2 separate regions of the Homo sapiens genome follow, and region 2 is linked to region 1. Evidence: fine-mapped expression QTL. Tissue or cell type: aorta. Region 1 holds a variant in brackets; the other region holds the start of a gene. All regions are shown on one strand. Distances are between the middles of the regions.

Region 1 (8,104 bases):
TTAATCATTACCTAGGCAACCACACTTTCATCCATCAACATCTACAGTGAATTTCACAGTAGCCAAGCAGTTAATCCACCAATGTCAAGATACCTGTACAACATTATACATGCCAAATCACACAGCACATTACTACTGCAACCATTTGAGAGAAAGTATTTGTGCATTTTGGAAAGGCACCATGCACAACATCCAATTTCAAGTACCTTCCAACTCCTCCTGTGTTTAGGGGAAACTCATCTATTTATACTAATGAATTAAGCTGTTTCTTGAATTGCTACTAATTTTTTTTTTCCAGGATACTACCATTTCTGGAAGGGTGGGAGGGAGGAACCAAAGGAACAAAGGTACTTATCTTAAAAATAGAAATCCATTCACATTTTAAAAATTGGTCAGCATCTTGTCTTATATTAGAGATGCACTTATTTAAAAAGTTGACCAATAATGGGATAATCTATGTAAAGTCTCTGTTTTAGCACTTAGTGCCTCATATGTAGTCATCACTTAATAGATGTTAAGACATACATATACACACACACAGGTTAAATTGTGCTCTCATATCATCTAACAGCATTCACCTAACAGTTTATAAAGCTTCTGATCAGAATGATATGAAGTTTAAAAACTATGTATTGTATTATATGGCACTTTGGATATCAGCATATGTGTACTACCCCAAGAAGGTAATTTAAAATATCTGTCTGGACATAAGTGTATGTGCTGACTACAACGCAGTATAACACTGCTCTTTGTGATGCTGCTCTTCCAAACAGTAGTGCTGACCTGATGGTGTAGTACATGATTTCTCACCTTTGACACCTTCATATTAGTAAATATTAGCTGTGTGTTCCACTATCAAAAAAACAGGTAATAATTCAAAGAAATTTCAGCATTAAAATCTTCAGTTTCCCAGTTTAAAACACAAGTGAAACAAGGTTGGCATATAAAAGTGCACTGATAACAAGCTCATTTTCAATTTTTCTACTTGATGTTATTAAAGGATAGAATGTTAGTGTATCCTTGCTTTGTTTCAAACCCAGGATTAAGTCTTCTTGGCCTCCTATATAGACTGCACTTCAACTGAGCCAAATACTAAGTAAGGGCTGTACCAAAGAGGCAGCTTGACGCCTGGTAACAACTTTACAATGGAAGTTTCCTATGAGCTAGGGAGGCAGAAATCGGAGATAACATTTTCCTGAATGAGTCTTTACTATAGTCACTCAGGAACATATCTTACATGTACGATAGTAAGACTCAAGAGGGTTTTTTTCTGATTGTCAATGTCCTGAGACTTCAGTAAAAGAAAATCTCCAGTGTGACAATTCCAAATGCCAGTCTGAAGCCTGAGTCAATTTGCCTAATAAAACTGATTTCACCATTAAAATAGCAATAATTGTTGCCTTGGTGGAACAGTTCTATAATAGCTAAAGACAAGAAGAAGCAGATAATTAGTAAACTCAAGTTGAGCCAAGTTTTCTAACAAGAAACACTGAAAAGAGCCATTTGCAGAAGGTCAAAAATAATTACCATTAATGTAAAAATGCAAAAGGCACAGAATATTGGTATGTGATGTTTGTGGCTACTAATATGCAATTAAAGTTTTAAACTATACGTAGGAATAAAAAGGAATAATACGCACCTACCTGAAGAAAGAAGTTACTTCTAGAGGCAGGGTGGGACGAGATGGAAACGGGCTTTAGTGGTATCTGTGACATTTTATTCCCCCCCAAAAAAAGCATGCACAGTCTGATGAAAATGGGGCAAAATGTTAACATCTGTTTAATCTCATAGTGTGTGACTTTCTTGTATTTCTAAAATACTTCCTAATTTAAAATAAAATTTTAAAGAGATTACAAGTGACCAAATAAACCAAGAACCACATACTTGTATGGTGTTCAAAACAAAATCACTAAAATCTAGAGAACTAATCTCAGTTAACAACAAAAGCCATCCGAAGGCTCAGTTATTTCCCACTGACTCACATACAGATTAGAGTAAGATTTACTTCACAACAAGAGCAGGCTCATTTATGTGGCAAAGTTCGGAGAAGCTTCACAGATAATTTACTACTCAAGACCACATTTACCCAGGTTGTATCAGAGTATCAGTTGTATCTAGAACCAGGAAGCTAAAAAGAAAGAAAAAAAAAAAGGCCTGGATGAAAAGCCAAAATAGGTGATACAAAGTCCGTACAATAAAACACATACCCTTTACTCAGAAGAGAATCCAACAAACTCTCACACAGCAATTGATTTTTTAGCCCAAACAAGCTTGTTTATCTGGCTACTAAGGCTTCTTCAGATGAAGTTCAGTAAAATACAAGAGGGAAGAAATTGCACAACAGGCAGCAACAAGGCACAATAAGCAGCAAGAAGAATCTGAGAGTAAGGAAAACAAAACAATTTTAAAGAACAGACACAGGCTAGCCGGGTGCGGTGGCTCAGGCCTGTAATCCCAGCACTTTGGGAGGCCGAGGCGGGTGGATCACAAGGTCACGAGTTCGAGACCAGCCTGGCCAATATGGTGAAACCCCTTCTCTACTAAAAATTCAAAAATTAGCCTGGCATGATGGCAGGTGCCTGTAGTCCCAGCTACTTGGATGAGGCAGGAGAATCGCTTAAACCCGGGAGGCGGAGGTTGCAGTGAGCTGAGATCACGCCACTGCACTCCGGCCTTGGCAACAGAGCAAGACTCTGTCTCAAAAAAAAAAAAAAAAAAAAAAGAACAGATATGGACTAGGCGCGGTGGGTCATGCCTGTAATCCCAGCACTTTGGGAGGCAGAGGCGGGCGGATCACCTGAGGTCGGGTGTTTGAGACCAGCCTAGCTAACATGGTGAAACCTGGTCTCTACAGAAATACAAAAATTAGCCAGGTGTGGTGGCATGCACCTGTAATCCCAGCTACTAGGGAGGCTGAGGCAGGAGAATCCCTTGAACTAGGGAAGTGGAGGTTGCAGTGAGCCGAGATCGCACCACTGCACACTCCAGCCTGGCCTAGGCAACAGAGTGAGACTCTGTCTCAAAAAAAAAAAAAAAAAAAAAGAACAGATATGGCTTGGCGCGGTGGCTCACACTTGTAATCCCAGCACTTTGGCAGGCGGAGGCAGGCAGATCACCTGATGTCAGGAGTTCAAGACCAGCCTGGCCAACATGGTGAAACCCTGTCTCTACTAAAAATACAAAATTAGCCAGGCGTGGTGGTGCATGCCTGTAATCCCAGCTACTAGGGAGGCTGAGGCAGGAGAACTGCCTGAACCCGGGAGGCAGAGGTTGCAGTGAGCCGAGATTGTGCCACTGCACTCCAGCCTGGGCAACAGAGCGAAACTCCGTCTCAAAAAGAAAAAAAAAGAAAAAAAAACAGACATGAAACTGATAAATTATAGTACATAGTTTGGGGTCAATAAGAGATGTTCAGAATAAAGTTCAGTATTTAAAAAAAACAATGAAACAAACCTACACTATGAGGAATTGCAAAGCATAAAAAGATAATGTATTTTAGAAATATTTCCATTCAGATTAGTCAACTTTTTTTTTTTTTAAGACAGGGTCTCGCTGTGTCACCCAGGCTGGAGTGCAATGGCGTGATCTCAGCTCACCGCAACCTCCGCTCCTCCGCTTCCTGAGTTCAAGCAATTCTCCTGTCTCAGCTTCCCGAGTAGCTGGGATTACAGGCATGTGCCACCACGCCCGGCTAATTGTTGTATTTTTTTGTAGAGATGGGGTTTCATCATGTTGTCCAGGCTGGTCTCAAACTTCTGACCTCATGATCCACCCACCTCAGCCTCCCAAAGTGCTGGGATTACAGGCGTGAGCCACCACACCCAGCCTAGTAAACTTTTTTAAAAATGTCTAAGGGCCTCAAAGGGTAAACTTCAGTTATCTGGAAAAATCACTGCAGAATTCATTGCCAGATGAATTAGACAAAGCTTAGCATACAAAACTATTATACTTCTTTCCTCATAGATACATTTCAAAAAACAGAAAATCTGAACAAATTCAATTCCTTATCACCAATATTTTGAATTTAATTTTATATATATGAATTTTTTTTAAGAAAATTTCTTCCTTTTTTTTTTTTCCCTGGAGACAGGGTCTTGCTATGTTGCCCACACTGGTATCAAACTCCTGTGCTCAAGCAATTCTCCCACCTCCACCTCCCAAAGTGCTAAGATTACAGGAGTGAGCCACAGTGTCGGCCAAAATGATTACATAGAAGATATGCAGAAAATGGCCAGGCACGGTGGCTCATGCCTGTGATCCCGGCATTTTGAGAGGCCAAGGCGGGTGGATCACCTGAGGTCAGGAGTTTGAGACCAGCCTAGCCAACATGATGAAACCCTCTCTCTACTAAAAATACAAAAAATTAGCTGGGCTTGGTGGTGCGCGCCTGTAATCCCAGCTACTCTGGAGGCTGGGGCAAGAGAAACGCTTGAGCCTGGGAGGCAGAGGTTGCGGTGAGCCGAGATCGCGCCATTGAACTCCAGCCTGGGCAACAAGAGCAAAACTCCGTCTCAAAAAAAAAAAAAAGAAGCCAGGCACGGT[G/C]GCTCGGTGGCTCACGCCCATCATCCCAGCACTTTGGGAGGCTGAGGCAGGTGGATCACCGGAGGTCAGGAGTTCGAGACCAGCCTGACCAACATGGAGAAACCCCGTCTCTACTAAAAACAGAAAAAATTAGCTGGGCGTGGTGGCACATGCCTGTAATCCCAGCTATTTGGGAGGCTAAGGCAGGAGAACTGCCTGAACCTGGGGGGGTGGAGGCTGCAGTGAGCTGAGATCATGCCACTGCACTCCAGCCTGGGCAACAAGAGCGAAACTCCATCTCAAAAAAAAAAAAAAAAAAAAAAAGAGAAAATATGCAGAATTTGGGCAAAAAATTTGTAACACAGAATTGACAATAACCATTCAGGTGCCAAATTTTTAATATGCCAAACAAACTTCTATATTGGCAACTCTTCACTTAGTGCCAATTTAGTTATCTCCAACATGAATATTTTGTTAGTAGAGGCCAGGGGTTGGCTAGGATATCCTGATTTCTGGCCTTGAATGATAAACTTAGTTTCTCTGGCACAGGTAAAGTATTTCCATAAGAGAAAGCCCAGCTGGGCACGGTGGCTCACGCCTGTAATCCCAACACTGTGGGAGGCCGAGGAAGATGGAATGAGGTCAGGAGATCAAGACCATCCTGGCTAATATGGTGAAACCCCATCTCCACTAAAAATACAAAAAAATCAGCCAGGCATGGCGGCGCGTGCCTGTAGTCCCAGCTACTCAGGAGGCTGAGGCAGGAGAATTGCTTGAACCCGGGAGGCAGAGGCTGCAGTGAGCCAAGATCGCACCACTGCACTCCAGCCTGGGTGACAGAGCAAGACTCCATCTCAAAAAAAAAAAAAAAAAAAAGAATACCCAATTATTGTACCAACCACTACACACTCATAATCATAAATAGTAGTCACACACATAAACTTATAATTCATTTTAATTAATTATCCACAAACGGAGAGGATCAAAATATGAAATATCTACAAAAGTCCACTGCTCTCAAGTATCCAGTGTAAAGGGAGGGGACAGGGAATGAAATAAATTTTGGGCCTAGAGAAACTTCTGTATAATAACAAATTTTCAAAACCAGCTAGACCACACTAATGTGAAAGACAACTAATTTTTTTTTTTTTTTTTTTTTTTTTGAGACAGAGTCTTGCTGTGTCGCCCAGGCTGGAGTGCAGTGGCGCAATCTCAGCTCACTGCAAGCTCCGCCTCCCAGATTCACGCCATTCTCCTGCCTCAGGCTCCTGAGTAGCTGGGACTACAGGCTCCCGCCACCACGCCCAGCTAATTTTTTGTATTTTAGTAGAGATGGGGTTTCACCATGTTAGCCAGGATGGTCTCGATCTCCTGACCTCGTGATCCGCCCGCCTCGGCCTCCCAGAGTGCTGGGATTACAGGTGTGAGCCACCGTGCCCGGCCAAGACAACTAATTTTTAAATCACTGAACATGGACTAATTTCTTCACCTTCTGCAGCAGTCCACACCCCAGGCCAGGTTAAAAATCCACTAAGTTGGCCGGGCATGGTGGCTCATGCCTATAATCCCAGCCCTTTGGGAGGCCAAGGGAAGGGGATCACCTGAGGTCAGGAGTTCGAGACCAGCCTGGCCAACATGGCAAAACCCCATCTCTACTAAAAATACAAAAATTAGTTGGGCGTGATGGCACACACCTGTAGTCCCAGCTACCCAGGAGGCTGAGGCAAGGAGACTCACTTGAACCCGGCAGGGGGACAGGGTGGAGGCTGCAGTGAGTCGAGATCACACCACTTCACTCCAACCTGGGAGAAAGAGCGAAACTCCGTCTCAAAAAAATAAAAATAAAAAATAAAATAAATCCACTAAGTTTCTAATATGTAACCTGTACAAATACTCTGGGCTTATCGTAAAATTTTGTAACTAAAGCAACTAAGCAACTTGCATATTTTGTGTTATGTGATTCCAACTGTTAGGAAACTGATCCAATATCAGTCATAAATATAGGTTTCTACAGATAAGAATTTTGTCCCCCTGCCCGGCCAGCCGCCCCGTCCGGGAGGTGAGGGGCGCCTCTGCCCGGCCACCCCTACTGGGAAGTGAGGAGCCCCTCTGCCCGGCCACCACCCCGTCTGGGAGGTGTGCCCAACAGCTCATTGAGAACGGGCCAGGATGACAATGGCGGCTTTGTGGAATAGAAAGGCGGGAAAGGTGGGGAAAAGATTGAGAAATCGGATGGTTGCTGTGTCTGTGTAGAAAGTAGAAGACATGGGAGACTTTTCATTTTGTTCTGCACTAAGAAAAATTCCTCTGCCTTGGGATCCTGTTGATCTGTGACCTTACCCCCAACCCTGTGCTCTCTGAAACATGTGCTGTGTCCACTCAGGGTTAAATGGATTAAGGGCGGTGCAAGATGTGCTTTGTTAAACAGATGCTTGAAGGCAGCATGCTCGTTAAGAGTCATCACCAATCCCTAATCTCAAGTAATCAGGGACACAAACACTGCGGAAGGCCGCAGGGTCCTCTGCCTAGGAAAACCAGAGACCTTTGTTCACTTGTTTATCTGCTGACCTTCCCTCCACTATTGTCCCATGACCCTGCCAAATCCCCCTCTGTGAGAAACACCCAAGAATTATCAGTAAAAAAATAAATTTAAAAAAAAAAAAAAAAAAAAGAATTTTGTCGCCAGGCACAGTGGCTCACGCCCGTAATCCCAGCTCTTTGGGAGGCCGAGGCGGGCAGATCACGAGGTCAGGAGGTCGAGGCCACAGTAAAACCCCATCTCTACTAAAAATACAAAAAATTAGCTGGGCGCAGTGGCGGGCACCTGTAGTCCCAGCTACCTGGGAGGCTGAGGCAGGAGAATGGCGTGAACCCGGAAGGCAGAGAGCTTGCAGTGAGGCGAGATCGTGCCACTGCACTCCAGCCTGGGCGACAGAGCGAGACTCCATCTCAAAAAAAAAAAAAGAATTTTGTGAATATTTTAAAATTCCCACAAGATACCACCTAATGCCACAATTTAAACGTATTGCTCTAATTCATGGATTTCAAAAACATTAATATATGCTTTTTACTTCTTACCAATGTTAATTTTTTTACCCTTCCAAACATGTCAATTAGTACAATTTAAAAGTCCAATCATCCTTTAATAAAACCTGTTGGAATTCACTATTGCGTCATCTTTGTGTTGCCATCTAGCCTGAAAAGAATTTCTGGAAAAAAAGTGTTTTGAAAAGTTCATGCTACTTACAAAATTTATTTATTTTTTATTTATTTCCTTGCATCAAATTAACAAGTCCCTGCTAATATCTAGTATATTACCATATGCTCACTCAATGGCACAAACCAGTCTTCCACTAAAGTAGAAAAGAGGTAAGGAGAAACATGTCACTGCTTGTTGTTCTATCCCGATACTTAAATCAAACTCACTTCTTTAATAAGTAATTATTTAAAAATCTGTACTTTTTTCTAGACTTTTCCCAAAATATGTCTGCCTCCAAAAATTATGAATCCATTTTGGCAACTAATGGGGTAAAGAAACAAATGTTTTTTTTAATGTTAGTCTTTTCACATAATGCGAACTCAT
Region 2 (8,104 bases), 46 kb after region 1:
CAACTTTTCCTTCTGCCTCATTATATTTCTTTTTCTTTTCTTTTCTTTTTTTTTTTTTTTGAGATGGAGTGTCGCTTTTTCGCCCAGGCTGGAGTGCAGTGGCCAGATCTCTGCTCACTTCAAGCTCCGCCTCCTGGGTTCATGCCATTCTCCTGCCTCAGCCTCCTGAGTAGCTGGGACTACAGGCGCCTGCCACCGCGCCCGACTAATTTTTTGTATTTTCAGTAGAGATGGGGTTTCCGTGTTAGCCAGGATGGTCTCGATCTCCTGACCTCGTGATTCACCCGCCTCGGCCTCCCAAAGTGCTGGGATTACAGGCGTGAGCCACCGCGCCCGGCCTGCCCCATCATATTTCAACTGGAATTCTTCACATCTGCTTATTGTATAAATAAATATTGGAGTGTCTACTATGTGCAAGAGTGTTCTTTGCCAAGACTGAGCCCCTAACAATCGATTCCTTCCTCTACTTGCACAATGAGTTCTCTTCTCTTGCTCCCATCATCGTGACAAGATCTTTTTATCTTGCTTTTTCTGAAATGTGAATTACTAAGATTGTAGGATTAAGAAATACCCTTTTTGGCTGGGCACGGTGGCTCATGCCTGTAATCCCAGCACTTTAGGAAGATGAGGCAGGTGGATCACCTGAGGTCAGGAGTTCGACACCAGCCTGACCAACACGGTGAAACCCCATCTTTACTAAAAATAGAAAAAATTAGCCAGGCTTGGTGGCGGGCACCTGTAATCCCAGCTACTTCGGAGGCTGAGGTAGGAGAATCACTTGAACCTGGAGGCCGACGTTGCAGTGAGCCGAGATCGTCCCACTGTACGCCAGCCTGGGCAACAAAGTGAAACTTCATCTCAAAAAAAAAAAGAAAGAAAAGAAATATCCTTTTGGTGTTACTTCTCTAACAGACAGCTCCCAATTTTCTTCTTTTTTTTTTTTTTTTTTTTTTTTGGGGGGGATTGAGTTTTGCTCTTGTTGCCCAGGCTAGAGTGCAATGGCATGATCTCGGCTCACCGCAACCTCCACCTCCCGGGTTCAAGCAATTCTCCTGCCTCAGCCTTCCGAAGAGCTGGGATTACAGGCGCCCGCTACCACGCCCAGCTAATTTTTTGTATTTTTAGTAGAGACGGGGTTTCTCCATGTTGGTCAGGCTGGTCTTGAGCTCCTGACCTCAGGTGATCTGCCTGCCTCAGCCTCCCGAAGTGCTGGGATTACACGCGTGAGCCACTGTGCCTGGCCAGCTCCCAATTTTCCATGAAGCTGATGAGGTAGGAAGATATGAATTTTCCAAAACAGTAGCTCATCAAACAACAACAAAACTAACTTATAGCTCATCTCTAAGCAATTAAATGATATTGACTCCCCTATCATTATTTCATCCAGGCTGATATGGAACAAGTTTGTATTAACTGAGAAACTGATCAGAGGGTGGGCAGAGATGATCTGGGATGTGTTGGCTACTGTGTGAGGCTAACATAAAACTCAATGGTGGAGGAAGTAATCTAAGATAAATTATATTAATGTTCTGCATTAATCAATAATCTTGGCCAGGCGCGGTGGCTCACGCCTGTAATCCCAGAACTCTGGGAGGCCGAGGCAGATGGATCACCTGAGGTCAGGAATTAGAGATCAGCCTGGCGATGTGGTGAAACCCTATCTCTACTAAAAATACAAAAATTAGCCAGGCATAGTGGCAGGCACCTGTAATCCCAGCTACTCGGGGGACTGAGGCAGGAGAATCGCTTGAACCCAGGGGGCAGAGGTCGCAGTGAACTGAGATCGAGCTATTGCACTCCAGCCTGGATGACAGAGTGAAACTGCATCTGAAAAAAAACAAAAAAACAAACAAAAAAAACACCTCTCATCCATGGAGTAAACTTTCCTCACTTTGGTTGGGAATACCAGTAAAAATAATTCATGTTTTGGCCGGGCACGGTGGCTCACCCCTGTAATCCCAGCAATTTGAGAGGCCGAGGTGGGCGGATCACCTGAGGTCAGGAGTTTGAGACCATCCCGGCCAACATGGTGAAACCCCATCTCTACTAAAAATACAAAAAATTAGCTGGGCGTGGTGGTGGGCACCTGTAATCCCAGTTACTTGGGAGGCTGAGGCAGGAGAATCACTTGAACCCGAGAGATGGAGGTTGCAGCGAGCCAAGATTGCGCTATCGCATTCCATCCTGGCTGACGAGTGAAAACTGTCTCAAGAGAAAAAAAAAATCATGTTTTATTTTCTAGGGATTAGAGTAGGTGGACAGGAGTCTGTTAAATAATCAGATATAGCTTATTTAAATGCTTAATAACATATATTCTATTTTTTTCTTTTTTCTTGTTTCCCTATGCTTCTATAGGCACTGAATAGCTCTGTTGCCCAGGCTGGAGTGCAGTGGTGGGATCTTGGCTTACTGCAACCTCTGCCTCCTGGACTTAAGCCATCCTCCCACCTCAGCCTCCCCAGTAGCTGGGGCCACCATGCCCAGCTATTTTTTTTTTTTTTTTTTTTTGAGACGGAGTCTTGCTCTGTCGCTCAGGCTGGAGTTCAGTGGCACAATCTCGGCTCACTGCAAGCTCCGCCTCCCAGGTTCACTCCATTCTCCTGTCTCAGCCTCTGGAGTAGCTGGGACTACAGGCGTCTGCCACCATGCCCGGCTAATTTTTTTTGTATTTTTAGTAGAGACGGGGTTTCACCATGTTAGCCAGGATGGTCTCAATCTCCTGACCTCGTGATTCGCCTGCCTCGGCCTCCCAAAGTGCAGGGATTACAGGTGTGAGCCACCGCACCCGGCCTAATTTTTTAATTTTTTTGTAGAGATAGGGTTTTGCCATATTGGGCAGGCTGGTCTTGAACTCCTGGACTCAAGGGATCTAACCCACTTCCGCCTCTCAAAGTGCTGGGATTACAAGTGTGAGCCACCCCACACGACCCCACATACTCTTCAACACATACATACAGCACTAATTTCATGTCACTATTAATGTGTCGTGCTATAGGTTCAATACTGTGGCTGGAACTTGTAGGGAAATACTTACCACATAAGAATGTACGATATAGCTGCGAAGTCAAGCTTTAAAAAACGCCTGTAATCCTTGCACTTTGGGAGGCCGAGGTGGGCGGATTGCCGGAGCTCAGGAGTTGGAGACCAGCCTGGGCAACACGGTGAAACCTCGTCTCTACTAAACTAGAAAAAATTAGCCGGGCATGGCAGCGTGCACCTGTAATCCCAGTTACTCTGGCGGCTGAGGCAGGAGAATCGCTTGAACCTGGGAGGCAGAGGTTGCAGTGAGCCGAGATTGTGCCACCGCACTCCAGCCTGGGTGACAGAGTGAGACTCCGTCTCCAAAAACAACAACAACACGTGATCTCCAAACCCAAAAGTAATCTTTCAGTTCTTCTGATAGTCCCCAGCACTTTGCTTCGACCTTTGTAGCAATTCTACTTCAGCCTGAAATTTCTTGTATGTACAGCCTGTAGCTCCTAACTTATTGCAAAATATTGTAGATGAGAACTCTGTAAGCTGTAATTGGCAGAATAATAACCAACGGCTAAGTGTGGAAAGTGTCTGCCTTTCAGCAACGTTTACACTACTGAATTTACCAGGGTGATCCCAACATCACGAATCCTTTAACAACTTAACATGAAGCAGCACGTAGCAGTTACCTGCATGGGTTCTGGAATTAGACTGCTTAGATTCAAATCTCGGTTCTGCCAGTTATCATCTATCTAACCTTAAGTAAATTACGTAATTGCTCTGTGACTCCTTTCCGAAATGACAAATCACAAATGTTTTTGTCAATTCACGTGTCTTCTGCTTTAGTAAACATAGTAGAAGACAGTAGTCAATCTCTTTTTTTGTTTTTTTTTGAGACAAAGTCTTTCTCTGTCACCGACGCTGGAGTGCAGTGGCGGGATCTCGGATCACTGCAGCCTCCGCCTCCTGTGTTCGAGGGATTCTCCTGCCTTAGCCTCCCAAGTAGCTCAGACTACAGCCGCCTGCCACCAAGCCCGGCGCTCTCTTGCTGGCGCATGACAACCGTGCGTTCCACCCTACGACTAATTTTTTTTTTTTTTTTTTAGACGGAGTCTAGCTCTGGCTGGAGTCAGTGGCGCGATCTCGGCTCACTGCAACCTCTGCCTCCTGGGTTCAAGCGATTCTCCTGCCTCAGCCTTACAAGCAGCTGGGACTACAGGCGTGTGCCACCACGCCCGGCTAATTTTTGTATTTTTAGTAGAGACGGGGTTTCGTCATTTTGGCCAGGCTGGTCTCGAACTCCTGACTTCAGGTGATCCACCGGTCTCGGCCTCCCAAAGTGCTGGGATTACAGGCGTGAGCCACCGCGCCCGGCCTCCTTTTCCTTTTTTAACTAATGGAATAAACGGCAATGTGCCAAGCATACAGCAATGCCCATTCCCCGGCCTTCAGAAAGCCTCGGGCGCAGGCGCAGCTCGCGTTCAAGCGCTCTCTCGCTGGCGGGGGACAACAGTTCGTTCCACCCTACGCCCAACGTTGTCTCCCTGCGCACGCGCGGCCGTACTCCGCCCTCCTTACTCCACCCTCCCCCACTCCCGCGAGCACGTGCGCGTCCTCGCTGCTCACATTTCGGCGGAGGGCGCGCTCCCTGGAAAATTCCACTCCTGTGCTAGCTCCACCCTATGCGGCTTTTCTCCTACCCGACGCTCTTCACTCTCAGCTCCCTTCCCGGCGGCCTTTGCGGGAACAAGATGGCAGCCCCCATACCTCAAGGGTTCTCTTGTTTATCGAGGTTTTTGGGCTGGTGGTCTCGGCAGGTGGGTAGGGACGGGGCCGATAGGACCCTAGGGGCTACAGGAGAGGACAGAGTCGAGGGAAATACTCTCTGTGCAATTGTCCTTGGTGAGCTGGGACAATACGAGTCATACCTAGGCCGGGGAAGAGGCTTAGGTGGACAGGACCTAGCTGCGGAGCTCAGTGGTCGAATGGGGATAGCCTAGACAGGGCCATGAGAGCGAGTGAATTAACGGATATTAAGTTTTTCCGGATTGGTTTGGGTCTGTCTGGCGAGGAGATATTAAAGGAGAGACAAGTAATGGGTTGGAAGGTGGACTCCCTAATCTTCGATTCTTATAAGTGAACTACGTTGAAGAGTAGCCGAAAATGAGGGCGTCCCATATTGTCACTGCCCCGTCTGAGCAAACCTCATGATCAGAGAGAAAAGATCTCCTGATCTTTCGAGGGTTTATTGGTCAGTTGGGTGCTAAAACGACAGAATAAAGTTTACAGCGAGACTCCCGATAGGATGAGCAAAATATCACGAGTACATATGGAGCAGATGCCTACAAGAGGACTTTGCTTATGCTTTAAGCATAGCATTCAGGGCCCGGCGCGGTGGTTCACACTTGTAATCCCAGCACTTTGAAAGTCCGAGGCAGAAGGATGGCTTGAGCCCAGGAGTTCGAAATGAGCCTGGGCAACATATAAGACCTGGTCTTTACAAAAAAATTTTAAAATTAGCCAGATGCGATGGCGCACTCCTTAGTCCCAGCTACTTGGGAGGCTGCGGTGGGAGGATAGCTAGAGCCCAGGAGGTCAAGGCTGCAGTGAACCGTGATCGTGCCATCGCACTCTAGGCTAGCGATCTGCCTCAAAAAATAATAAAGAATAGTATTCTGCCCATTTCAGTATTGAGTTGGTGTTTCCCCATCACCATCAGTTTTTGAAACTTGCTTTGATCAACTCAGTATCCGTAGGAGTTAGCATAGTCCTGTACTGTGGGAAGTTCTAAAGGAAAGCCTTTAGTAAATGTGATGTTAATAAAGGTTGCTAACTGTCTTCTATTTAGAGACACCCATAAGTATTAAGGTCCTAATGCATTTTTTCCCTGTGATATTGTTTTATAATTGTTCCTGAAGCATTCTTTGGATATTCCCTCTCTATAGTGCTTTGCTTAGAGTTTGTAAAAGATAGTAGATCTTTTTTCTAGGTTCCTAACCTTTCCTTTACCTTCCAGCCAGTTCTGGTGACTCAGTCCGCAGCTATAGTTCCAGTAAGAACTAAAAAACGTTTCACACCTCCTATTTATCAACCTAAATTTAAAACAGAAAAGGAGTTTATGCAACATGCCCGGAAAGCAGGATTGGTTATTCCTCCAGAAAAATCGGACCGTTCCATACATCTGGCCTGTACAGGTGAGGTATTTCTGGGACCCTGACCTGGGATCCTTCTGTCAGAGATCTTCTGGAACTTGGGATGACTTGGACTATGATTGATAATATTTAATTAAGCACGAAGTCAGTTCAACCTCAATAATGATTAACCTTATATACACTATATATCATGAAGTTGTTCTTTGAACTTACTTTCACACTGTCCCTAGAAGGCAAGAGTGAAATTTCTCCATTTTGTGGAAGTAGAAACTGAGGCTCTGAGAGAAGACTTAAATCTTTCTGGCTTTTTTTGTTTTGTTTTGTTTTGTTTTTTGAGACAGAGTCTCGTTCTGTCGCCCAGTGGCACAATCTGGGCTCACTGCAACCTCTGCCCCCCTGGGTTCAAGCGATTCTCCTACCTCAGCCTTCCAAGTAGCTGGGATTACAGGCACCTGCCACCATGCCCGGCTAATTTTTGTATTTTTAGTAGAGATGGGGTTTCACCATCTTGGCCAGGCTGGTCTTGAATTCCTGACTTTGTGATCCGCCCGCCTCGGCCTCCCAAAGTACTGGGATTACAGGTGTGAGCCACTGTGCCCGGCCTTGTTTTGTTTTTTTCTAGTGTAACATAGTTCTCTCTACATGGAAGTCTGTTTCATTAGTCTACTTCATATCCACAATCCTTCCCAATTTTACATTACTTCAATTTTATGAGTTTTTCTCAATCTTTCAACACTTTCTTAATTTTTTTCTTCCTTTATTACAGCTGGTATATTTGATGCCTATGTTCCTCCTGAGGGTGATGCACGCATATCATCTCTTTCAAAGGAGGGACTGATAGAGAGAACTGAACGAATGAAGAAGACTATGGCATCACAAGTGTCGTAGGTGTCTGAGACAATTGGGTATTGGTATTAGAATAACAATTTTTTGTTGCTACTTTATCCCAAAGAGACCTTTTTGGGTTAATTGGGTTGGGTGTCATTCTCTTAATAACATGATGGTATTTTCTCCTTTGTACTAGAGTCTGTATTTAATGCAGAATAATGTGGGCTTCCTGATTCTCAGCATCCCTGCCTTTATTGGTAATTTTTGTCATATCAGTTAGGGAGTTGACTTTGGAGTGTATAGGATCCTTTTTTAATCATATATTTAATTTTTTTTTTTTTGAGATGGAGTTTCGCTCTTGTTGCCCAGACTAGAATGCAATGGCACGATCTTGGCTCACCGCAACCTCCGCCTCCTGGATTCAAATGATCCTCCTGCCTCAGCCTCCTGAGTAGCTGGGATTACAGGCATGTGCCACCATGCCCGGCTAATTTTGTATTTTTAGTAGAGATGTGGTTTCTCCATGTTGGTCTGTTGGTCAGGCTGGTCTTGAACTCCTGACCTCAGGAGGCCCGCCTTGGCCTCCCAAAGTGCTGGGATTACAGGTGAGAGCCACCACGCCCAGCCCTTTATTTATTTATTTATTTATTTATTTTGAGACGGAGTTTCACTCTTAACTCACTGCAACCTCTGCCTCCCGGGTTCAAGAGATTCTCCTGCCTCAGCCTCCCGAGTAGCTGGACTACAGACGCATGCCACCACGCCCAGCTAATTTTTGTATTTTTAGTAAAGACGGGGTTTCACCATGTTGGCCAAGATGGTCTCGATCTCTTGACCTCGTGATCCACCCACCTCAGCCTCCTGAAGTGCTGGGATTACAGGCGTGAGCCACTGCGCCCAGCCGACCTGGCTAATTTTTAAAAGAAATTTTTGTAGAGACGGGTTATCACTATGTTGCCCAGGCTGGTCTCGAACTCCTGGGCTCAAGCAGTCCTCCCACCTCAGCCTCCCAAAATTCTGGGATTACAGGTGTGACCCGTCACACCCAGCCAGTCTAGCTCTGACTGTATCTATCTTTTTTTTTAAATTTGTACTGTTCATTGCAGAGCAGGGCTACCCCATAGGCCACTGTGCCCAGAGTAGCCGCTGTC

Evidence for each region. PIP is the estimated chance that this variant, and not a neighbour inherited with it, causes the effect.
Region 2: it holds the start of MRPL45, and the variant in region 1 is fine-mapped to the expression of MRPL45 in aorta (GTEx, PIP 0.95).

What each region holds. Positions count from the first base shown.
Region 1 is chr17:38,246,860-38,254,963 of GRCh38, forward strand. It overlaps the pseudogene NPEPPSP1. Among named protein-coding and RNA genes, the nearest start is that of MRPL45, 46 kb to the right of the region's middle. The variant G/C (reference allele first, on the strand shown) is at 4,543.
Region 2 is chr17:38,292,460-38,300,563 of GRCh38, forward strand. MRPL45 (mitochondrial ribosomal protein L45) reads left to right here and starts at 4,709. Exons shown (of 8, transcript NM_032351.6): 1 at 4,709-4,790; 2 at 5,990-6,167; 3 at 6,892-7,009. The coding sequence starts at 4,725. LOC105371760 (a long non-coding RNA gene) reads right to left here and starts at 3,146. Exons shown (of 3, transcript XR_934732.2): 1 at 3,035-3,146. RefSeq lists enhancers at 4,045-4,593, 4,594-5,144.